Regions from separate parts of the Homo sapiens genome. Here all the other regions are linked to region 4. The links come from fine-mapping of genetic effects on gene expression. A gene starts in region 4. Each other region holds a variant in brackets. All regions are shown on one strand. Distances are from middle to middle. Region 1 overlaps METTL24 (methyltransferase like 24). Region 2 overlaps DDO (D-aspartate oxidase). Region 3 overlaps WASF1 (WASP family member 1). Region 4 holds the start of CDC40 (cell division cycle 40).

The links.
Region 1: its variant is fine-mapped to the expression of CDC40 in neutrophils (BLUEPRINT, PIP 0.95).
Region 2: its variant is fine-mapped to the expression of CDC40 in pancreas (GTEx, PIP 0.93).
Region 3: its variant is fine-mapped to the expression of CDC40 in whole blood (INTERVAL, PIP above 0.99).

What each region holds. Positions count from the first base shown.
Region 1 is chr6:110,329,509-110,335,396 of GRCh38, reverse strand. The region is part of intron 1 of METTL24 (methyltransferase like 24); the gene reads left to right. LOC102724586 (a long non-coding RNA gene) reads right to left here and starts at 143. Exons shown (of 5, transcript XR_428004.3): 1 at 47-143. RefSeq lists an enhancer at 4,797-5,297. The variant G/A (reference allele first, on the strand shown) is at 2,900.
Region 2 is chr6:110,386,969-110,392,856 of GRCh38, reverse strand. DDO (D-aspartate oxidase) reads left to right here. Exons shown (of 5, transcript NM_001372108.2): 5 at 1-1,073. The coding sequence ends at 82. Among named protein-coding and RNA genes, the nearest start is that of DDO, 26 kb to the left of the region's middle. The variant C/T (reference allele first, on the strand shown) is at 3,035.
Region 3 is chr6:110,109,634-110,115,521 of GRCh38, reverse strand. It overlaps WASF1 (WASP family member 1), which reads left to right. Exons shown (of 11, transcript NM_003931.3): 5 at 2,062-2,196. Among named protein-coding and RNA genes, the nearest start is that of WASF1, 67 kb to the left of the region's middle. The variant G/TTG (reference allele first, on the strand shown) is at 2,628.
Region 4 is chr6:110,177,701-110,183,588 of GRCh38, reverse strand. CDC40 (cell division cycle 40) reads right to left here and starts at 3,162. Exons shown (of 15, transcript NM_015891.3): 1 at 2,956-3,162. The coding sequence starts at 3,144. It overlaps WASF1 (WASP family member 1), which reads left to right and starts at 3,919. Exons shown (of 11, transcript NM_003931.3): 1 at 3,919-4,150; 2 at 4,847-4,991. RefSeq lists silencers at 3,890-3,999, 4,240-4,559.

The DNA.
Region 1 (5,888 bases), 150 kb before region 4:
TCGAGATTTCATCAGCTTAGATCTGCTATGTTATACAGTTTGTCACCTGTACTCTCGTTATTTCCAATCTGAAATGGGGAGAGGGTCCTGGGCTGAGGTCAGTTGCCACTTTGGCAGCTTCGCTTCTAACTTTGGAGATTCTTGCTCCCATTCACCAAAGAATCCTGAGTCCAGAGAGTTCCACAGCAGCAAACCCAATCAGAATGGATTGACTTCCAAAAAGGTCTGCTTCCTTCAGCAATTCTTCATGTCCCTGAAAAAGGCCACTTCGTAATAAAGACTGTGGATTTTTCCTTCCATTTAGGGTTGAGGTTGAAATACTTTTGGTTCCAGAGGAGTCCAGTCGACTCTGCCTGCCTTGTTCTGCCCTGGTGGCAGCTTCCCAGAGATTCAAAAGAAGCTTTTATGTGGCTTCTCCTAACTTGTCAGCCACTATAACTTATAGTGCATTCAGACAGAAAAATGTTCTATAAATATAGAATCATGCAAGGAATGTCCTGGAACCAGAGCGTTATCTGTAATTGTCAGGTAGGATTTACTGAGACTACCAAATACTGTATCATTGTCAAATGGCAAGAGAGTAGGATAGGTCAGTATGAAACATGAACAATATGAAAATGACAAAAGAGTTAATGGATGAATGAATGCTGAGAACTGAGAAATACATATATGTATACCTGCACGGTTACGTGCAACCAATGACATATTCAGTGGGATGTGATAGCCTCATGAGGAAACCGCTGCTACTCTTTAACCATGTGATAAATGGTGTGTGGCTTTGCTCTCCCCCATCCCCCAACCCCTGGGCCTGTCTACTCGTGGCAGAGCACTTTATGTCCTGCTTGCTTTTGTCCTGTCTCAGAGGAGAGGATTCAAGCACCATCCAGTGTCTACAACTGGTTTCCAAGAAAGGCTTTGCTTCCCGTCAATGTCCTGTGCCACGTGTGGCCTCTGTCCCCTTGTCAGCCTTTGGGGTGGCTGTGGGATGCTGCTGCTCTGTGTTTTGGGTGCTCTCTGTGGCCTCTGGGATGCATTATTTCTGCCACGGTCCATGTTCTCCTGCGCTTGCTGACTAGGTGAGGCATTTTAATTCTTTTCCGTGATAAAAATGACTTCTGGTTTAAAGCCTGGAAAGGAAACACTTTCCCTGGTTTGAGTGAAGTTGAGACTGATGTGGGCTGAGAGCCACCAAAGAGACCTCGGGGAGCCCTGTGGGCCCCCGGGTTGCAGGTTCTCTCGTGGGGAAGATGGAGATTGCTGTGCAGGTGTTGCGGGAAGACCCCCCTTTCCTCTGTTTTCTCTCAGGCCCCCCTTTTCCTGTTCTCGTCTCCATTCCTCCCCCCACTTTTTTTCTGTCTGGCTTATTTACTTATAGAGAACACTACTCTAAAATGAAAATAGAATATATAACTTCTAAGTTACTCTTATTAAAAATGATGAAATACAGAAAATCTGAGAATGACAACATGTAGAGAGTGGATGGGAAAAATAAAAAGAAAAGCCTCAAAATAAAAGTATAAATAAAGTAATGTAAATGCACTTAAGTGTGTCAGTTATCAAGAAATATAACTATTGAAGGGAAAAGTTTATAAAATTAAATCAACTCAGTGCTGTATACAAAAGAAGTATTCAAAGTAACATAGGTTAAAAATCAAGGCTGGGCGTGGTGGCTTACGCCTGTAATCCCAGAACTTTGGGAGGCCGAGGTGGGCAGGTCATTTGAGGTCACGAGCTTGAGACCAGCCTGGCCAACATGGTGAAACTCCATCTCTACTAAAAATACAGAAATTAGCACCCACCTGTAATCCCAGCTACTCGGGAAGCTGAGGCAGGAGAAATCACTTGAATCTGGGAGGCAGAGGTTGTAGTGAGCCGAGATCATGTCACTGCACTCTAGCCTGAGCAAGACTCCCCTCAAAAAATACATAAATAAATAATAATATAATAAAATAAAAATCAAGTGAAAAATATGCCAATAAAATACAAATCTCAAATAAAAACACGGTTTACAAATATCGACAGACAAAATTTCAAGGCAGGAAGCATTAACTGGAGCAAACTGGTGGCTTTTATGTCCTCCCCACCCTCTGCCAACCCCCATTTCCCTTTGGTTTTAATAGCAACTCAGGATCCCAAGCATCTTTGAAATGGGTTTATAGGGGTGCAGCAGACCTTCCTCCTGAATACACTGACGTCTCAGGGCTGGTAAATGTTTGGGGGAAGGGTAACTGACTGAAGTAAGTCGATGAACATAGCAGATTGGTGTTGATTCAGATGATGTTAAACTTTTAGGATTCTGAGTTTCAGAAAGTCCAGGTAACCTTACGTATTTTGAATAGGGTGTGTATACATGTGGAGGCAGGGTGTGTGAGAGAGACAGACAGAGACAAGAAGAGGCAGAGAGAGAGAGATAATCCTTACAAATATGGTTAGTGTTTTTCTAAATTCCCTTTGCTTTCTTAGGCACACTTGCTTTTTTTTTTTTTTCGATAAATGTTGTCCTTCTGTTGCCCAGGCTAGAGTGCAGTGTTGCAACCATAGCTCACTGTAACCTTGAATTCCTGGGCTCAAGCGATCCTCCTACCTCAGCCTCCCAAGCAGCTGGGACTACAGGAGTGTACCACCACACTTGGCTAATTTTGTAACTTTTCATAGAGATGAGGGTCTTGCTTTGTTGCCCAGGCTGGTCTTGAACTCCTAGCCTTAGGTGATCCTCCCACCTCAGCCTCCCAAAACTCTAGGATTACAGGCCTGAACCACCGTGCCTGGCCGAAACATTCTTATATAAACTTACTTTCATAAGAAAACTGAAACTCGTCCCTCCTTTCCAGGTTGATGTGCTACCTCAATGAAACCCATAATTTGACATCTGAAACTTTACTACGTATGCAGACACTGT[G/A]TAGTTTCCACCTCATGAAAACAAGTGAAAATCTCGGCTTTCACTGGATCCACTCTAGGTATATGGCTTCTGTTTTTACTGCCCATGATAAAAATCTAAAATATATTACGTTTTATTCTCTTAGCCATCCCCTGGTGTGTTTCAGTCTTGCTCACATTTGAACCATTTTGACCTACACAGAAAATGTGGTGAATTTAAAGATGTCAATTTAAGAACAAACTCCAACTCAAATTTGTTTAGCCACTCTTTCCAACTTATCAAAATAACTTAGAGGATAAATCCAGAGTTGAGTGTTTATTCCTTCTTGTCTTATATTTTTTATTCCTTCCTAAAAGTTATCAGGACCTGCTTGAATTATAATGCATTTTTTCTTGTCAGAGCTGATTTGATTTCTGGCTCCCCTGCCTCCCAGCCTACCCTCTGTGTCATGCTGCAGAGGCGGCAGATTGGCGCTCTGGATTTGAATTTCAGCATGCCTGCTGTCTGCTGCCAGAGACATTTAGCAGATGGGCTTGCAGAGAGAGAGAGCTGGGTCTTGACAGGGAGGGGGCCTGAGGGGAAGAGGCTCCTATGGGACGGGCTGGCTCTGCCCGTTCTCACCTTGTTGTTTTGACCCTGGCCCACTACTGGGTCTGTCACAAGATTAGCAGAGGCTCAGTTTTTTATTGTTGTTGTCTTTAATATCCAGCACTTTGCTTATGACACATAAAGGTGTGGAATTCTTCGAGTTTTCCTCTGAGGGGTTTGCAAAGCTTCTTGAATCTTTAGGCTATATTTTCCATCATATTTGGGGGGTCTTTCAGTCATTCTTTCTTCCTTTTTTTTTTTTTTTTTTTTTGAGGCAGGGTCTCACTTTGTCAGACAGGCTGGAGTGCAGTGGCACAGCATGACTCACTGCAGCCTTGACCTCCCAGTCTCAAGCAATCCTCTCACCTCAGCCACCAGAGTAGCTGGGATTACAGCTGGGATTTACTACCATGCCTAGCTAATTTTTATATTTTTGTAGAGACAGGGTCTCGCCATGTTGCCCAGGCTGGCCTTGAACTCCTGAGCTGAAGTGATCTGCCCGCCTCAGCCTCCCAAAGGGCTGGGACTGCAGGTGTGTGCCATCGTGCCTGGCCTCATTATTTCTTTAATTTTTTTTTTTCCTGCACTGCATTCTTTCTTCCCCTCCTCTGGAATATCAGTGACATGAATGCTAGACCACTTGGTATTGCTGCACAGGTCCCCAAGGCTCTTTCCCCCCTGCCCACAATAATTTTTCTCTCTGTTTTTCACATTGGATACTTTCTATTGATCTGTCTTCAAGTTCACTGGCTCTTTCTTGTGTCAAATTCTTTCTGCTATTGAATTCATCCCCTGAGATTTTATTTCAGTTATTGTATTTTCTGTTCTGGAATTTCCATTTGGCTCCCTATGCTTCCTATTTCTTTGCTGAGACTTTCTATCTTGCCCTTGGTTTCAAGCATGTCCACCTTTACTTCATGGATTATTTTGTAAATGTTGCTCTTAAGTCTTTGCCAAAAATTTCAACATCTGTATCAGGCCTACATTGGCATCTGCTGATTGTCTTTTTCCCACATAAGTTGGGATTTTCCTGATTCTTCATATGCTTAGTAGTTTGGGACTGTATCCTGAAAATTTGAATATTATAAGGCCGAGTTTTGTTTAAATACTGTGGATAATGTCGATATATTTGTTTTAACAGGCAGTTATCCTGGTTGGGTCCAGGCCTCAAGTTCCCACCAGCCTCCTGTGGGTTGTAATTTCCATGTCAGCTCTGTTTTCAAAGGCTTGGTAGGGGTTTCACCTCTGTCCCATGTGTATCCCATGTATGCCCAGGCCAGTCTGGGGCTTGGGCAGAGGTCTGTCTGTCTGTTAGCTCCAGAGGTCCATCTATTAGCTCAGTTCTCAGTCTTTGCTGTGCCAGGCAGGATCAGATCCACACATGCACAGTTCTAGAGTGAGCCCAGGTGCTTTACAAATCCGTTAATGGGGCTGCCTTCCCAAGCTACTCCTTCTCCCCAGTTTCCCCAGTATTATCCAGTTCCCTACGGTTTTTGAATCTATGACCAGAAAGTTTGGGCTTTTACCCCTGCTTTGCCTACGCTCTGCTTCACACTTCCTGTGACTGTGCCTGAGTCCAAGGCCAAGCTGCGGGAAGAGAGAGACAGACATAGTCAATGAGGATTCACCCCACTCTCTGGGGTCCACTGCCTCAGAGAGGAGAGGAAACTTCCGTTTTCGCAGAGTTCTAGGTGCCTTCAGGCCCCCACTGTGGCTTCTACCATCTTAGTGGGATTACTTGCAAGAACGGAGAAAGGAAAAAAAAGGAGGAAAAGTGAGGATTTCCTCTACTATCCCTGAGCATCGGGAGACGCCCCGCCTCCTGGAGCCTGAACTGCGGGGCTGCTCCTGGTGCTTCCTGGCTGCGCCAGTGCCCACCACCGGTGCCAGGCAGCCTAGAGTAGGGCGGGCAGGACACCAGAAGGAAAAGCAATGGTGACCTGGCTTCTAGTTTCGAGGTACTTTGAATTCTGGTCTTCTTCTCCAATCTGCCTGCTACTGTTTACTTTTCAGATTCCTCAAATAACCGCTCTGTGCATTCTGTCCAGGTTTTACTGCTGCATTCCGTGGGAGGCGCGGGGTGGGAGTGTGCTTACCCAGAACGGAAACTGAGATCCTTTGTTTTTAAATGAAATTTTTGCATGGGTTACCTGAATTTTAAACATCACTGCACAATGTATAACTGATTCTTGCTCTTTCTGAAGCAGGGCCGGGTCTGAGAAACAGGCCAATTACAGGAGAAGGCTGAGGGGAAGGCACGTGAAACTGCACCCGGCACTCCCCTCGCAGCCTTCAGAAGCGCTGGGCACACACTGAGGGCGTTACAGAAACGTAACGGCAGTGCTCACAGCCTCAGCCAGGGCTAGAGTCATGTTCTGTCCAGATACCATTTTGTGCCTCTCCCTCCCCCAACTACTCCCAC
Region 2 (5,888 bases), 210 kb before region 4:
GGGCACTGCTCTGGAGGCCGCCAGGCTGGTGAGCGAGTGTGTCCATGCCCTCAGGACCCCCATTCCCAAGTCAAACCTGTAGATGACATAAAATGACAGCAAAGAGACTGAGAGACTGTTGATCAAAGCACAGAACAGGTTCAAATAACTTTTCCACTGCATGAAAGTTTAATTAGACATTTCTTTGTTTTCAACATTAGAAGTGGTGTAACATGTAAGCTGAGCACGGTGGCATGCCTATAGTCCCAGCTACTTGAGAGGCTGAGGCAGGAGGATTGTTGAGCCCAGGAGTTTGAGTGCAATCTGGGTAACATTTTTTAGAGGTGCCAGTTCCCACCTCTAAAAAAAACACCAACAACAAAAGAAATGATGCAACATGTAGGCTTACTTAGGAAGTCCAGCATTAATGGCATAGGGCATAAAGCTCTATTTTTTGTTAAAAATACTTCTTATAGAGTAAAATTTATTTAGAACTGATGTCCAAGGACCTATGCAGATTTATATGAATGTTGGAAGCTATAGAGATTTTGATATCATTTGGCTTATAAATCCACAGGAGGAGATAATGTATGGAAAACATTTAAATCACTGTCAATTGCAGAGCTGCCTGTGATCTTCTTAGGTTATAGCCAAGTCAGCAACATAATTCCTCTAAATAAAATTACATTGTGCTCACACAGTGCTGGATTATTACATTTAATTGAAGACAAAGCATGCTTGCTCCTAGTACTAGCAGCAAGCTTTTCCTCCCCTCAGCTGGTAATGATGGTAGGAGACAGAGATGAAGTTGCCTATGTATGTCATATCAATTCAATAGCTGCCTGGGGTCAAACACCTAGGGGTTGTACATTCCATTACTGTAAATGATTGAGAGCTGGTTTGTGGTATGGTTGGCTTTGCCTAAGCATTTTTGAAGATGAACAGCATGTGCAGCCAAAGAACTAATTTGCTAATTAAGGTGGAACAATCATTCTGAATGAAATATAATCAGAGTACTCCGCAGTTTGTTAAGAAGTATTGGGGAGGAGGGGAATGTGTCTCACAATAAAATGAGTTGGAATTGTTGAGTTAAATGAATTTAACCTGTTTTTTGACTCAGGCCTACTCAGAGCCTCTAATGTGTGCACGTGTATTGTGAATCCTCTAGAGAGCTTGGGTGGACGGAAAATGAAGTGCTGGTATTGAAGTAAAGAGGCTTGAGGAGGCTGGGCACGGTGGCTCACGCCTGCAATCCCAGTACTTTGGTGCAATCCCAGCACTTTGGGAGGCTGAGGTAGGTGGATCACTTGAGTTCAGGAGTTCAAGACAAGCCTGGCCAACATGGTGAAAGCTCGTCTCTATAAAAATACAAAAATTAGCTGGGCATGATGGTGGGTGCCTGTAATCTCAGCTACTCGGGAAGCTACTTGAACCCGGGAGACGGAGGTTGCAGTGAGCTGAGATCGCACCATTACACTCCAGCCTGGGTGACAGAGCAAGACTCCGTCTCAAAAAAAAAAAAAAAAGGCTTGAGGAGAAATGGATTTAATTTTAATATTTGGGGAAGACGACTTCTGTTAAATGATACAGTAAGTTATATTTTGGACATCCTGAGTGAGATACAGGGTTGCCAATGAAAGTGTGGGAAAGAGAAAGCTCTTAGCACAGCTACAGCTTTACTGTTGCGTTCATTCAGAACTTGCATATGATTTTGTTTGCAGAGAACATTCTGCTGGTAGACAGTGAGAGAAGCCCACCAGTGTTTTATGCAGTCATAATCATTCCTTGCAGTATTAACATTCTCAAGTAAAATCAAGTGTGGGCTCTTTTCTATAGATTTCCACCAGGGGGTGGTGTTGTATCAGATTCAGATACATTGGTACATTCAAAAATTTAGAAATGACTAGAAATGAAAGATGGATACCAGGTATATAGAGTGTGCGTGCTTCTTTTGAGGTTTTGGAGTTTATATACTCCAAGTGCAACTCTTCTGAATTCTGTTTTAAGTATTTGAGAAATGTATAAGTTTAGACAGACTGGAAACACATATGCATCATACATAATCTGTGAGAAATAAAAGGTTATGATAAAACAGCATTTTTTAAAGGAGGAAATAATTTTTTAATAGTTAAAAATAAAAATGAAGGCCACTGTTCAGAATAGGTAGAATTTCAGTCATTTCGAAGCAGCTTTAAGTGTACTCCTTTGTTCACTATGCCTGTGGTTCAGATCCTGTGGCATTTTTATTGTGTGTTGTGGGCTCACCTTCTATGACCTTTGCCTATTTGTTACTCTAGTTCAGCTTCACTCTGCGTTTTATATTTCTAAAGTGCAATGCTACAAGAGTGCAAGACTGGAGGCTTCTTGAGAAAGTGGTTGTGGCTGCATGCCCTGATTTCATTTTCACTAATTGCTAAATATTGTTCCCAGTGTCTCTGAAACATTATTCATTTTGGTCAGTAGCTGCCAACCTGGGCTGCAACTTAGAATCACCTGGGAAGTTTTTAAACAATGTTGATGCCCAGGCCTGCTTTATGAAATTAGAATCTTTGGTGGGTGGGGCGGAGCTGCTGCATCAGTGTTTACTTAAAGCTGTCCACAAAGTTCTGAGAGCCAGGGCTGAGAACCACTGAGCACTACTTCCCTCCCCTCCTTCTAGGCCCCCACTGCTAGCGTCACCATTATCCTTCCCTTCCTTCCTCGCCATCTTGGGGCATCGAGCTCAGAGGGATGTGCTCACTTAGGCAAGTGTGTCCTTAGGCACTTCTGGGCAAGGTGGCCTAGAGGAATTAGCTGTCCCAAAATAGCTCTCTAGAAATACTGGAATCACCTTGCTGGCTATCAGTCAGCTGCTCCAAGACAGCTATCTGTCTTTATCTGAAAGACAACAGACTGAATGTACAAATGGACAATGGCTAGACCACATATAAAAATAGAACTCTGGCCCACAAGCTGCAGCAACCTGCCCAGGAAACCAATTCCCTTATCTACAATAAACAACACAGGAAGCCAGCCTGCTACACAAGTATATCAGACTTGCAGGAAGCCATATTGC[C/T]ATCTCTAGAAATAATCCAGAAAGATAAACAATAACTTCTGTAACAATTCACACAAAATGGCCAGGACTTGATTAATAATTGACAGCATCCCTAATTTTTGCCCCCACCTCTAACTTAGAACAAATCAGAGAAAAAAAATATGCTTGCCCCCACTTCTAACTTAGGACCAACCATATAGGATGCTTTGCTTCTAGTTAACTTGCCTACAGTGTCCCCATGCCTATCAGGACATATGTGAAGTCTTCTCTTTTTTCTGTTGTGAAGCTTTCTCACCCCTCTGCCTACCTTTGAATCTCTGCCAAATGTAAGTGTGATGGGCTGACTCCCTTGCTATAGTAAAATCTAAAGAAATAGCCTTTGCATTTCTCATTTGACTGGTATATTAGTCAGGGTTCTCCAGATAAACAGAACCAGTGGGACATATGTAGACATATAGAAAGAAATTTCTTATGAGTGTTGGCTCACACAATTATGGAGGCTGAGAAATCCCATGATCTGCTGTCTGTAAGCTGGAGGCCCAGGAGAGCTGATGCAGTTCTAGTCCAAGCCTGAATGCCCGAAACCCAGAGGAGCCAGTGGAGTAAGTCTGAAGGCCACAGTGCTGAAATCCAGGGACAGGAGAAGACAGATGTCCTAGCTCAAGCAGAGAGCAAATTTGTCCTTCCTCACCTTTTTCTTCTATTCAGGCCTTCAACAGATTGGATGATGTCCACTCACATTGGTGAAGATAATCTTCTTTACTTAGCTTACTGATTCAAATGCTTATCTCTCCCAAAGATATCCTCATATATACACCCAGAAATAATGTGTTGCCAGCTAGCTAGGCACCCTTAGCTCAGTCCATTTGACACATAAAATTAACCATCACAGCTTATCTTCATTTACTTCAAAGATTTCAATGTTTATATAAGTTGAGGTCTTCCTGGGTAATCGGTGCTACTGCCTGAGAATAGACTGCTTTATTTTTTCTTTCTTGTTTTCTATTTCAGAACATCTTTTATTTTTTTCTGAACATGAAGAACAACTGATTTCCTTCTTAAATCTCTGCTTTCAAGTGTCTGGCCTTTGTGGCTGAGTGTCTGCCTGCTGTGTCTGTGACCCAGAGGAACGAGGCTGCTTTGAGCCCTGTCATTGCCAGCGTGTGCTTCTTCAGCAGGCAAAGGTTATGCACAAAGTTTTAGGATTTTTTTTTTAACTTTTGGGATTTTATTTGCTTAGGAAGAAAAAAAAAAGTTTAACAGAAAGGCCATAGCCCAGGTGGACACAGTTGTATAGAAGAAAGGCTATTTTTAAAAATGACATATATTCTTCCTTTTATTGAATAATGCATTCAAATCAACTGATATTTGAACCGGTTTTTCTCAATCAATTAAAAGCTTTTAGAAAAAAGGAAGAAAAGGATGGTGGAACATGTGTCCACTGGGAGTTGTAGTTCTTAGAAACCTGTTTCAGGACTTTCGTAACTTGTCAAATATTTGAAATAAATGTAGCATTTTTTTTATTTCTCTCGTTTTTCTTCTTAAGGGTGTGAATGATGGAGACACATTTGAAACCTGCTTCCTCAGGATATCATTCACTCAAGAAAAGCCAATTGAGATCTTTAAGTGGTCCCTTTCTTCTTGAAAAATCTCAGCAGTTTGCCACAAGGCCTGGGGGTTTTATTATTCTAAGTAACTTTGCTGCCAATAAATCACAGCCCTAAGTAGCCAAAGGGAATGCATTAGCCAGATCTCTTATAAATATAACCAATGCTTCTTCAATTATTAGCAGAACAATTGACTTCCATCTACTCAAGGCACCTGTCAACCTGGCCTGCAGCCATGATTCCCACAATTCCACCTCCCAGAGCCTGTTCCCCTTGAATTATAATTTTTTTTATACTGGTGCACATTCTATGGTATGAGCCCAGGACCCAATTTTTCATGTATCCCGGTATTTCTCTTCCTTGCAGATCCAAGTCGTCTGTCAATGGAACTCAACCAGTGTGGTTGAAACTCCACATGGTCTTTTTGCTCTGCCCAGGACTCCTTTCCTGGGAAATCTGCTCAGACCTGGAAGATTCACTGTGTGGGCAGTATCCCTCAGGCCCTACCTCTCTGGTTACAGCTTATTGGAGCAGAGGAAACTGTCAGGTTTAGGCCCCATTGCAGGTAACAGAAACCCCCTAAATATTTGCTTAAACAAGGTGGTCATGTATTTCACTCACATAAAAGAAGCCTAGATACAGGCAGTTTAGGGCTGTTGTGAGGTCTCCAATGGTCATCAGTGATCCAGGCTCCTTCCAGCTCATACTATGCTATTTCAAGGGTGTGGCCCTTGTGCTCACATCCAAGATGGCAGTCAGAGCTCCAGCACATCATTATATCCACTCTCCAAGGACAGTTCCCAGAAGGTTCACATAACACCTTTGCTTGTATTTCACTTCATAGGATTTAGCCTCAGGGTTACACTGAGATTCAAGGGAAGCCGGGAATGTAGTCTTTTGTCTTGGTGGCAATGTAAAAGTCAAGGTTTTAGTAGGCTCTGCAAAAGTATCAAACTATAAATTGAGTTAGGTCAGTGTTTGGGCTCTGAAACTGAAACCCCAGAATATGGCACATTGACATGCTGAACTGAAGAAGTCTCAAGGTCTGTCTGACCTTCTCTACCCCAATCCTGTCTCTCCCAAAGTACAGGATGCAGCTGTTCTCTGAAGTTCCATTATCTGCCTGAAGTCCAAACCACCAAAGAAAAAAATCAGTTACCTCTGGTACCTTCCCTGAGTTTTCATGAACTGAACTCATATGACAGGAAGAAAGACTGAAGTCTGTCAACACACCTGGACAGACTTCTGTCCCAAACCATTGTCTGCTA
Region 3 (5,888 bases), 68 kb after region 4:
TATCACAAGAATTTTAAAAGACATTCCCTTACTGGCAAGGTACTTCCTGACTTCAGGGACAAAGCGTCAATGGGACCAATCCAGAAAAAGGATTCTCATTGTCCATGCCTTCTTGTTGTCTTGCCTTCTTCTTTTGGCCTTCTTTTTCCTTCAAGGTTTGAGGTTAGCAGCTTTATAGATAAGGGCAGTTCTGATGATAAACCCGACTGCATTTGCACAAAACAATAGAGTTAGTGTGTCCCTTCCTGCCTTAAATCCTGGTGTTCACTTTTTCTTACTAATAAATGTCCTCTGTAGCAGTTTTTTTTTTTTCTGGAATAGGACACTCTCATCTGCATTAAAACTCTGTTCAGGCAGATATTGTTTCTACTCAATTTTTTTCTTTTTCTTTTCTGTTTTGTTTTTTTTTTTTTCTTTGAGAGAGAGAGAGAAGGTCTCACTTTGTCACCCAGGCTGGGCTGGAGTACAGTGGCATGATCACGACTCACAATAGCCTCGACCTCCTAGGCTCAAGTGATCCTCCTGCCTCACCTCCCCAAGTAGCTGGGACTACAGGCACATACCATCGTGCCCAGCTAATTTCTGTATTTTTGGTTGAGACGGGGTTTCACCATGTTGTTCAGGCTGGTCTCAAACTCCTGAGCTCAAGCAGTCTGCCCACCTCAGCCTTTCAAAGTGCTAGGATTACAGACTGTCATGCCTGGCCAATTTTTTTTTTTTTTTCAAGCAGCATACATGGAAACTAATTATTTTCTTAATGGCATCTGGGAACTCATCTGCTGCCTCTTGGCTGACAAAAGCTGCAGCTTCTCTTGTGACATTTTTGAGGCCAAACCTCTTCCTGAAAGTATCAAAGCATCCTTTACTGCCATTAAATTTTCCAGGTTTAGATCCTTTGCCTTCCTTTTGCTTTAAGTTGTCATATATGGACTTCACTTTTTCTCAAATCATGTTAGAGTCTGTATGTATGCTTTCTTGTAACAGCCATGCACCCACAAAAATTGCATTTTGATACAAGATTAAAAGGTATTCGCAAAAAGTACAAGGTTTTTGTGTCTGCTGGTGTATCTGCAGCAATGGCTTCATGATTTTCCTTTTCTTTTTTTATAATTGCCCTTAAGTTTGATTCATTTATCTTGAAATGCTAAGCAACCACAGCTGTAGACCTCAATCTGGGGTTCATATCAAGCAATTCAACTTTATCTTGTAGTGTTATGACTTTCTTGTACTTGAGAGTACTTCCAGCATCACTGGTGGCACTTTGAATGAGTCTCACAATGTATTCAAGGTTTACAGTATTGCATAAAACATGATGGAAAATACACAAGAACCATGAGAGATTACTTCCTACTCTTATATGCAATTTAGTGGAGAGAGAACTGCTCAAACAGCATTTTAAGTGGATAGTAACAACACTAGAGCTAACTGCAGTATCAACAGAGGGTGGCTATAAAATTGTTACAGTAATACAGTATTACACTTAAATTTATTGTTATGATTTAGTACTATTAGGTTGGCAAAAACTGCAATTACATTTGCACCAACCTAATATATCTTTCCATTTCTTTATATTTCTCTTGACTGTGAATGGCACTATGTATGTTTTTGTTTTGTGTGTAAATTTTGATAAATTTTAACTTTTTATAATTTCTGTATATTTTGTGGTAGTAAATGATAAAATAGTCTAGTATTTACATAGATTTTATGCATTCATATCTTTAAAATATACTTTAAAATTTTTAGTATTTTTAGGCTATGTGGTTCATCTGCAAGTTTTTTCAAATTGTCTCAAATCTCCAAAATTTTCAATGTATTTATTGAAAAAAATCCACATGTAAGTGGACTATTACAGTTAAACGATTTTGTTCAAGGGTCAACTGTAATTCCAAATAAATTCCAAATTCAACAGGTCACCAGTTGTAATATTACATTGTTCATTATTTATCTCTGATCACAAAGTATCTGAGGGCAAATATCATGCTAGATTTCTACTGCTTGCAAAGATAAAAACTCAGTGCTCTGGATGTTAAATTTTATGATATATGTGTCATTTTTGCTTAGGTAAATATGCTGAAGATATATTTGGAGAATTATTCAATGAAGCACATAGTTTTTCCTTCAGAGTCAACTCATTGCAAGAACGTGTGGACCGTTTATCTGTTAGTGTTACACAGCTTGATCCAAAGGAAGAAGAATGTAAGCTTATTAATATTGTATTTTCTTCTACGTATATATTTTAAGTTAGATGAGATGAATGATATACTTAACAGTATTAATCATGAATTTATTACAGATCATACCCATGTCCTTTGGTGTACATATTGTAATAAATCAGTGAATTATCTAAAAATGCCATCAGTATGATTCTCCGGGCTTTTCTTTTCTACTCTGTTTTAAATCTCTTCTTTTTGTACACTAAACAGCTCCTAATTTTTTTGCATAAAGAAGTCATTTTAACCAGACATTTTCCTCCATTCTCTTCATTATCTTTCTCTTTTCATTTCTCCCTTATAATTTATTTGTATACTTTTGTCTTAGAAATAAAAATTATTAGAAAATTACCTGAAATCTTTAGGTTTGATTCTACAAGAATGTAACTGGTTTTTTTTTTGTTTTTTTTTTTTTTT[G/TTG]AGACAGACACTCTGTCACTAGGCTGGAGTGCAGTGGCGCAATCTCGGCTCACTGCAACCTCCACCTCCCAGGTTCAAGCAATTCTCCTGCCTCAGCCTCCTGAGTAGCTGGGATTACAGGTGTCTGCCACCACGCCTGGCTAATTTTTTTATTTTTAGTAGAGATGGGGTTTCACCATGTTGGTCCGGCTGGTCTCGAACTCCTGACCTTGTGATCTGCCCACCTCGGCCTCCCAAAGTGTTGGGATTATAGGCATGAGCCACTACACCTGGCTATGTAACTGCTTTTAATATGCTTTTGTATGTGCATATTGCTAAAGTCTTATTAGTTATTTAACTGAATGCAACTTCCTACTTTAAATGAACATTTCAAAAACAAATTGCCAGTATGTAGGGTGTAAACATTCTATACCAAGATATTAAATCAGGAATAATCAGATAGGCTAAAATAATTGTAGAAACTTCGGTGGTAAAATCATGTTTTATGCCTTGATAGAATACATTGAATGCCGACGTTTCCCAAATGCATCTTTTTGTTTGTTTCACAAAAAGAAATGCAATACTAAGAACATAATTTGCACTTACCTACCACAGAGAATTGTTTAATGGAATTTCTTACACTCTCTTCAAAATATTTTTGTTGCATTAAATAGTATAAACACAAATTATATGATAGATCTAATTTTTAGTATAAATGCAAATTATATAATAGATCTAAACTTTAACAATAAAAATACTAAAGGATGTCAGTGGAAAGAACAAAAATATAATGTAATGATAGATGTCTTAGTGATGGAACCAGCTACTTTTGAAATAATCCAATGTGTAAATAAGGAGAGGCAAATACTTGGCATACTAGATTTGTACCACTTGTAAAATGTAAACTCAGAGCTCTGGATACAAGAAGAAAAGGAAATAATACTTAAAAAATAGCTTTATTAAGATATATTTCACAACCTACGTATACCTTGCAGTTCACCCATTTAAAGTTGAAGTGTACAATTCAGTGTTTTTTAGTATATTCAAGTTATGCAACCGTCACCACAATCAATTTTAGAGTATTTGTATCACTCCAGAAAGAAGCCCTGTACTCATTAGCAGTCACTCTGTTTCCCCTTCAGCTCAACCCCTAGCAATCACTGATCTTTCTGTCTGTATGGATTTGCCTCTATGGATTTGTCTGTATGGATCTGTCTGTATGGATATTTCATATGAATGAATAGTACAGTATGTGGTCTTTTGTGACTGGCTTCTTTTAGCATAATGTTTTCAAGGTTCATTCATATAGCATGTATTTATATCTCCCTGATGGCTAATGATGTTGAGTATGTTTTCATGTGCTTACAGGCCATTTGAATATCTCCTTTGGAGAAATGTCTATTTAATTCCTTAGCCCATTTATAATTTGTATTATTCGTGTTTTTATTTTTGACTTGTTGGAATTCTGTGTATATTCTGGATCTAAATCCTTTATCAAATATATGATTTGCAAATATTTTCTCCCCTTCTTTAGGTTGTCTTTCTTGGTGGTATCCTTTGAAACATGTGCATGTATCAATACATTAATTACACCTCATGGAATTCTTGAAATAAAATCATTGTTAGTGGTGAAAAATATTTTATGGTCATGCTTTCAAATACATAATTTATAGCCAAAATTTGTTTTTCAGATAACTCAACTGCTTATCACTTAAATATAAATTTATGCCATCAAATAATAGAGAAATACACAGGCAGTTCTCATATGTAACAGAAATAAAAATCAACATTTAGTTTCAAAATATTGTTACATTTTAACAAATGTCTTAGAGCCACCATTAAACTTGAAAGTGAAAATACAGATAACAGTAAATAAATTAAGATGTTTGTGTTAAAAAACAAATTTTAATATGTCAACAGCTATACTGTCAGAATTATACCTAGTTTCCTTTAAAATTTTGTGGAGCAGTGGGGGAAGAATTCAGAATCTAAAAGCTGAACTACTTAATTTGAAATTGTTTTGGAGAGGTTGTATTGAAGGAGTTTTCAGTTATTTAACCTAGGTTTTTTAATTCAGTGGGAATTAAAAAAAAAACATCATGTGTACAGTACTAAATAGCACAGTGTGGTATCAGTTTTTTTAACCGTTTTGTAGTAACTAAAAACTATCAATTTTGAAAATATTTTTTAAATGAATTTTAAACAAAGACTTGTACAATTATATTTAAGTCAATTATGTTTATAAGCATTATGCTAATTTATTGCTTTATAATTCTATTTTATTAATATCAGATGTTATTGTTGGCAAGTGGAAGGAGCTTCACCACAATAGTCTGTTAATAATAAGACAAACGATAAATGAGAGGAGTTGAAGATAGAAAAGTACATCATGCTTATTAGTTTACATGTTTCTTACATCCTTTACCAAGGAAGTTTGGCGAGATTAAACACTAGGTTTCATCTTAATTACATACTTATTGATTAATAAGTGGGGCAGGAGAGTGGCAAGAATTGATCCACTTTGACTGCAGAAAACACAACCCACTTCTGGCAGGAGCCTGAGAACAGCGTGTGGTATTGTGGCAAAAAGATTAGCCTCAAAGGTAGACAGATCTGACTTTTCTGTTCTGGCTCTGCTGTTTATTAACTGTTTAACCTCAGGTCAGTTATATACTATTTCCTAGCCTTAGCTTTCTTATATTTCACAATGGAGTAATAATTCCTGTCTTACTGAATTGTAAAGATTAAATGAAATGAAATTTAGTGAAACCATCTAGCACATATAGTATGTACTCATTAAATACTGTATCTCCAGTGCCACTTTTTAGTGATAGTGGGGAAAAACTTTTTGCTTCTCTGAATTTTATTTTAGTATTTATAAGTGTGTTACAGGTCATGCAGCAGTGGAATTGCTAGAAATGGAATTATGGTGCCACCATTGCAGAGCCAGCCTATTGTACCTTCTGTGCCATTGGTCCCATGTTCATGTTGAGTGAATTTACTTGAGGGGATGACAGGAATATTATTTTAAGGAGAAGGATAACTTAAGAATTGTTGGCTGGATGTGGTGGCTCACACCTGTAATCCCATCACTTTGGGAGGCTGAGGCGGGCAGATCATGAGGTCAGGAGTTCAAGACCAGCCTGGCCAACATAGTGAACCCTCATCTCTACTAAAAATTTAAAAAAAAAAAAAAATTAGTCGGCCATGGTGGCAGGTGCCTGTAGTCCCAGCTACTTGGGAAGCTGAGGCAGGAGAATTGCTTGAACCCGGGAGGAAGAG
Region 4 (5,888 bases):
GTTGGTTCATAAACCAACAATGAGCAATGCCCTCTACGCTCTCATAGAACCCAGACCACTGGGTGGACTAGCCCCAGCTCTACCTCTAATGGACTTCTGGTACCTTACGCAGCCTTTCCTCCTGGGTTCCCTTATTTATTCGTGATTGCACTAAGTGAGCTCTAGACAAACACCCCCATCCCTGCCACTGCATGTCCAGCTCTAAAATTCTGATTCTTAATGTGCATACTTTTACAAGACTTTCTTTTTCATTCCATTCTCTTACCAAATATACTTCCCTAATCTTGTGTACTAGGCACTGGAGACACAAACGAATGGATACAACAGTCTCTGGACCCCAGGGTCTCACAGTCCAGAGGAAAGAAAAAGATGAACAAGTTACAGCAATGTGCTAAGTGCTATAGTTAAGATATGATAAAGGGGCTAAGGTAAAATAGGAGGAAACATATACACTGAGACTGAAGGACCACAGTGTTTGGAGTGGGGGAAGGAGGCACTAGGCAAGGGATTTCCAGGCAGAAAGACTAGCGTGGGCAAAATCTTCAGAGGAAGAAAGAAAATTCGGCTTTCAGGGCTTTGTAAAGAGTTCAGCATGGGAGAATAGCAGGACTCACATGCTACCAAAAAAACTTAGAAATCACCCATTGGACAACATGGTGTCTTTGGGCAGGGAAGTGATACGATGTAAGTGGAATTTACAAAGATCATTCTAAGTGCACTGTGGAGAAAAGAATGGGGTATAAAACTGGGAGACAAGAAAGGAAGAAGTAGAAAGATCAGTTAGAAGGCTACAACTGTCTGAAGAGAAATGATGAGAATCTGAACTAAACAGTGGCAGCAGAAGAGAGAGATTTGATGAATATCATTGAGTTAAAGTGGACAGAACCCACTACCCAAAAAGGCTGAAAGAGAAAGAAAAGAATAACTCCTGGGAGAAATAAGGAAGATATGAAGCCTGCACCAGTGAAAATAGCAAGGAAGGAGTTGATGTGAGAGAAATTAATGAAACAGCAATGTTAGAATCAATTGAATGACTAGCTTCAGGGGCTGAGGAAGAAGGAAGAGAAAAGGATACCTTCTTTGTTCTCGGCTTCAACTAGTGGGTGGATTGTGGGATGACAGATCAAAATAGGAAAAACAGAAGTGGATTTTGAGGGAAAGAAAATAATTTTTCGACACACTGAATTGGAGGTGGCTGAGCGCCAACCTGCAAAAGACAAATGTACAATTACTGTGGGAGATTTTTATATACCTCTCAAGATCGTAAGCTAGCAAGGAGGATAGAACTGGAAATAAAAGGATAGCAAGCATTTAATTAGTGTTCATTGTGTGTGGCACTGTTAAAAGGGCTTTACATCTTTTATGACAATTATTATAATTCTGTTAGATAGGTACTACTGTTATTCCTACTTTACAGATCAGCAAAAATTAGGTACAGAGCATTTAAGTAACTTATCCAAGGTCCCCAGGTGGGTAAGTGCTGGAGGCAGGATTTGAATTACAGTCTTAATTCCAGAGCCTGTGCTAACCATTTCACGGTGTTCACCTTGAGCTAGAAGCAGCACAGCCTGAGGTTGAAGGTATGGGAGAATATGTGGAATGCAAAGAGGACTAAGAGCAGAGTCCTGGGAAACACCAGTATTGAAAAGGGAGAGTAAAATAATTGGAACAGAATGCTGAGTAGAGCCCCATGGAAGCGAAACGGAGAGAAAGTTTCAAGAAAGAGGAACTAATGAACAGTGTCATTTGATGCAGACATTTAAGTCAGATGGCTGAACTTGACAACTGGAAGGCCTGGGACATCACTCACAGACAGTAGTTTCCCAAGAGGATAGGGCCAGACTGCATTGGGTTGAGGAGAAAATGAGACGAAGACAAAAAGAGAGCTCCAAAAAGCTGAGCTGTGAAAGGAGAAGACTCAGGAGGTTACTGGAGGGGCTTAAGTTTGGAAAGTTTTGTTTTGATAGGAAGTTAGGAGGATTCTAAGCATTCTTTCATGACAGATGTCCATTTTTAAAAAGTAAAATTCACATACAGCTTGTTAAAAACCTGTAAAACACTTCTTAAGTCATTAAACTAGACTTGGGGACATGATACAAAGGAATTTTTGGACACCGCCTCCCCTCTTCACATCTTGAGCTGATCACCTACCTCGGGCTCTACTGGGCCTACACTACCAATTGGTAGATGCTCTCATCAGGCTCCAGACACATCAGCTTTTCCTCAGTTCTTCAAACCCACTAGGCTCTTTGCGTTCTCAGGCTTGCCTGTCACCTCTGCCTGGAAACTCTTGCCTTATTAATCAGCTTCCTCCATTGAGATCATGCAGCTGTTTCTCAAATCCAAGGCCTTTTTCTCACTGTATTAACACACACAATCATAAAACATTTACTGCACTCTCACTAGTTGGCTCTGTGCTATATGCTTTATTTGTGTAATTTCACTCAATTTTCACACTCATCTTTTCATGTAGACAGATGTTTTGAAAATGATCTCCACTGTACAGGTGAGGAAAGAAAGGAGGCTGCATAACTTGTCCAAGTTCACACAAGTGGTGGTGCCAGGATTAGAACCTAGTTCTTCAAAAATAAGACAAATCGAGGCCACTGCTCACACAATACTCTAGTTTGGGAAGTCCTGATCTAATTTCACTTATGTTCCGAGATTACACCTGCACTTTCCAGGCTATGTCCCTAATCCACAAATTCAAATTTCATCCCCTCCTTCCACTTGCTTTCTGATGGCGGGAGGCAAGGGCAGAGAGCATCGGAGGGCTATTCCGAACTTCCAATTCTGCCTCTCCCGAGGATGCATGTGGGAAGGAGAAGAAATTCAAACGTTAGCAACTTATCTCTGAGCACTGAGAAAGAGGTAACCCGGTACCTAACAAGCGGCTGGCAGTTCTGGAGCTGAAGCCAACAATTCCCACACTGCATTAGTAGCAAAAGTGCTTACCTTAACTGCCACCTCCGGAGCCGAGTCCACTGCCACTGCTAGAGACGGCTTTGATGAAGGCGATTTAGTCAAGTGCATGAGGGAGTCGGCGGCTGGCAGCGGACACCGACTGCTCTCACTGTCCGAGTCCGATTCGGACCCTGAACCCGAACCATAGGAAGCGGCCAGAGCTGCAATCGCAGCCGACATGACGGCAACAAATCTTCTGCGGAGACCCTGCCAGGGCGGAAGAAGAAGAGGCTCCCAGGTCCTGACAGATTGCAATGGAACACATCATTAACTTTCTTTGCTAAGAAATAATGTCTTACATTTTGAAACAATAAGCTAATTATTATTAGAATAACTACTGTCGAGCTGAGAGCTTAAAAAAGTTTATCTAGGGAAAAAGGGAGAATTATAATAGTTTATAACATTTAGGACCTAGTTGACTAAAGAATATGAGTTCCAAAATACCTTGAGGCCTCGCGGTCCTGCACTCCCAGCGTGCAGCGCGGCAGGAAGCGCGAGAGGGCACAATGGGAAGTGTAGTTTGCAACGAGGGGGCGGAACGGGGGCGTGTCCCCCTTTGACCCCGCCCCCGAATGGATGTTCCATTCAATTGGCTATCATCTTCCCTCATTCCCTAGCCAAGCAGTGTTCTCTTCGTCCCCCTCCCCCAAACTGAGGATTGGGCAATACCACAGAACCTCAGGAAAGGGGGGAAGAGCGAGCTTCGGCCCCACTAATGGGGGAGTGGGCGGAGGCTGGATTTCCCACCTCGGCTGCACCTGGGCACTGGAGGCTGAAGAGGAAAGTGAGAATCTGAAGTTTTGAGACCTCTGACTGGCCAGGAATAGCTCCTGGGGCGGGGGGCAAGGATGGGACCATAGGCGGAAAGAGTCTCGCGGTCCCCCCTGCTTCTGGCGCGGGTCCCTGCGCCCGGTTGTGGAGCGTCTCGCGCGGGGAGGGGGCGGGGGGAACGGCAGCTCGCGGTGTTGTTCACTCGCGCGTCGAGCACACGGTGGGTCCGGCGGCGGGTTGGCGCCCCAGGCGGCGTTCCCTGTGGCCTGGCGCCTGGGCCGCTGCCCTGAGCGGGTTCCGCCCCAGAGCCCGACCCTCCTGGGGGCTCTAGGCGGAGTCCCGCGAGCCGAGGGGGACCGGCGACCGCTGCCGAAGCATGAAGAAGGGGTAAGGCGTGAGCCCCCAAGATTTCACGGTGAGCGCGAGTCCCTGAGGAATTGCTTTTTTCGGGGAGGGGGTGTTGGGAGAGGAACTCTTCCTTACTGGCCGGAGCAGACCGAGTGGTGTGTGGCCCGCAAAGGTGACGGGGATGGATGGGCGCGCCTTCCCCGCCCCGGCCCCCACCCCCATCCGCGGGTTTTCCGAGCGCCCACCGCCCACCCGCCAGCGGGGCTGGGTGCCGAGGGAGACGGCGGCGGGCGCGCCTGGGGCTTGGCTGCAGGGACCGCCCCGGGGCTGCTCTCGCTGGAGAGACTGTGGGTGTCACCTGAGGTGCCACCGCCCGGGCTTCCCTGCCCACCCGCGCCCGCGGTCCGCCCCGTGCCTCTTTCCGGGGGAGGCGGTAGCCCCGGGCGACAGAGAATCCCCTGCTCGCCCTACGTGCGCGAGGCTCGGTAAAGCGAGCTCGTGCGTTTGCGTGTTTGCTCCGCGAGTCGGTGTCTGAAAACATAACGGTAAAGCGAGTGCGGGCATCCTTTTCTTCGTTGGAAGGGGAGGCGAAGCGGTGCTGTCGCTTCTGGTGCCTGTTCATGGGGGCTGCCTTGGGCAGAGTTACGGAGCCGCTCACTCAGCGCTCATGTCGGCAGGACTCGCCCATTGTGCCACCCAGATAATTATTCAACTATGCAGCATCCATTGCACCTTTCCCATTTTTCTTTTCCCCTTGCTACAGCATGCCCCCTAGCTTCGGTACTCTGACACCTTCTCTTGCACTTGCGGATGATGAACTGGAATAACGATGAAAGAAAGCACATCCGATCTCAACATTCACGTCCTGCCCTATAACCGATTAATTAATTGATCCCCAGCTAGACTAGGTACTTAAATACGACTTACTCTAATCATTTCCTTTTCTATGTAATAAGATGTGCGGTGGATTCGACTTAAATTTTTTCTTTGGTGTTAGATTCACGATTAGCTAAGGTCTTTTTTCTGTTCACTAATTGATGTAATTGACTTATTGGTTATTCAATCCGTCTAATGTTCTTAAATTTAAATTTGCATGGTAGGTAACATTCATTTTTCTGATTGTTCATAGCATTATATCATAATTAGAAATGCAGTCTCAATTTGAACTCTCAGGAACAGTTTATCCTTTATGCTCTAAGTTTCTGTTAGGAAACATTTTTGTTTATATTGAATATTTGAATGAAGTATTTGATATAAAATTTCGGAAGTTTTGAATAAGAAAAGTTTTGTATTTGTTTTTCGGTAGCAGAATATGTCATTACTAATCGTTGCCTTCCATTGAATGGAAGGATTTAATATTTAAGATGAGGATTTTAACCATCATATCAGTCATTCCCTAATTTATCTGATTTTATTTTTTATTCACTTTTTTCTTTGCAATATCATGTATTTAATTACTTGTTTTAGAATCCAGTTTTTTTTTTTCTAACTTGAATCTACAAGTATGAGTAGGCTTCAGTTTTGCGTGATCTACCTGAAGGATGAAATTTTTTTTTTTTTGCAAATATAAGAAACCACTGTTGGTTACTTGATTTTTATGTTAAAAACTGTTTACATCTCATTATTTAAAAATAAATGATTCACTATAAAAAGTAAGTGTTGTATTTTTATAATTTTCCTTTTCCATCTTTCCTTGTTTAAGCTTGTTGCATTTACCCTTTTGATAAAAGAGAATCACATAAGCATTGCAGAGGCAGTTTTAAGGTATAGTAATTGTTTTATGGCACTTGGAAGTGGCGTACATA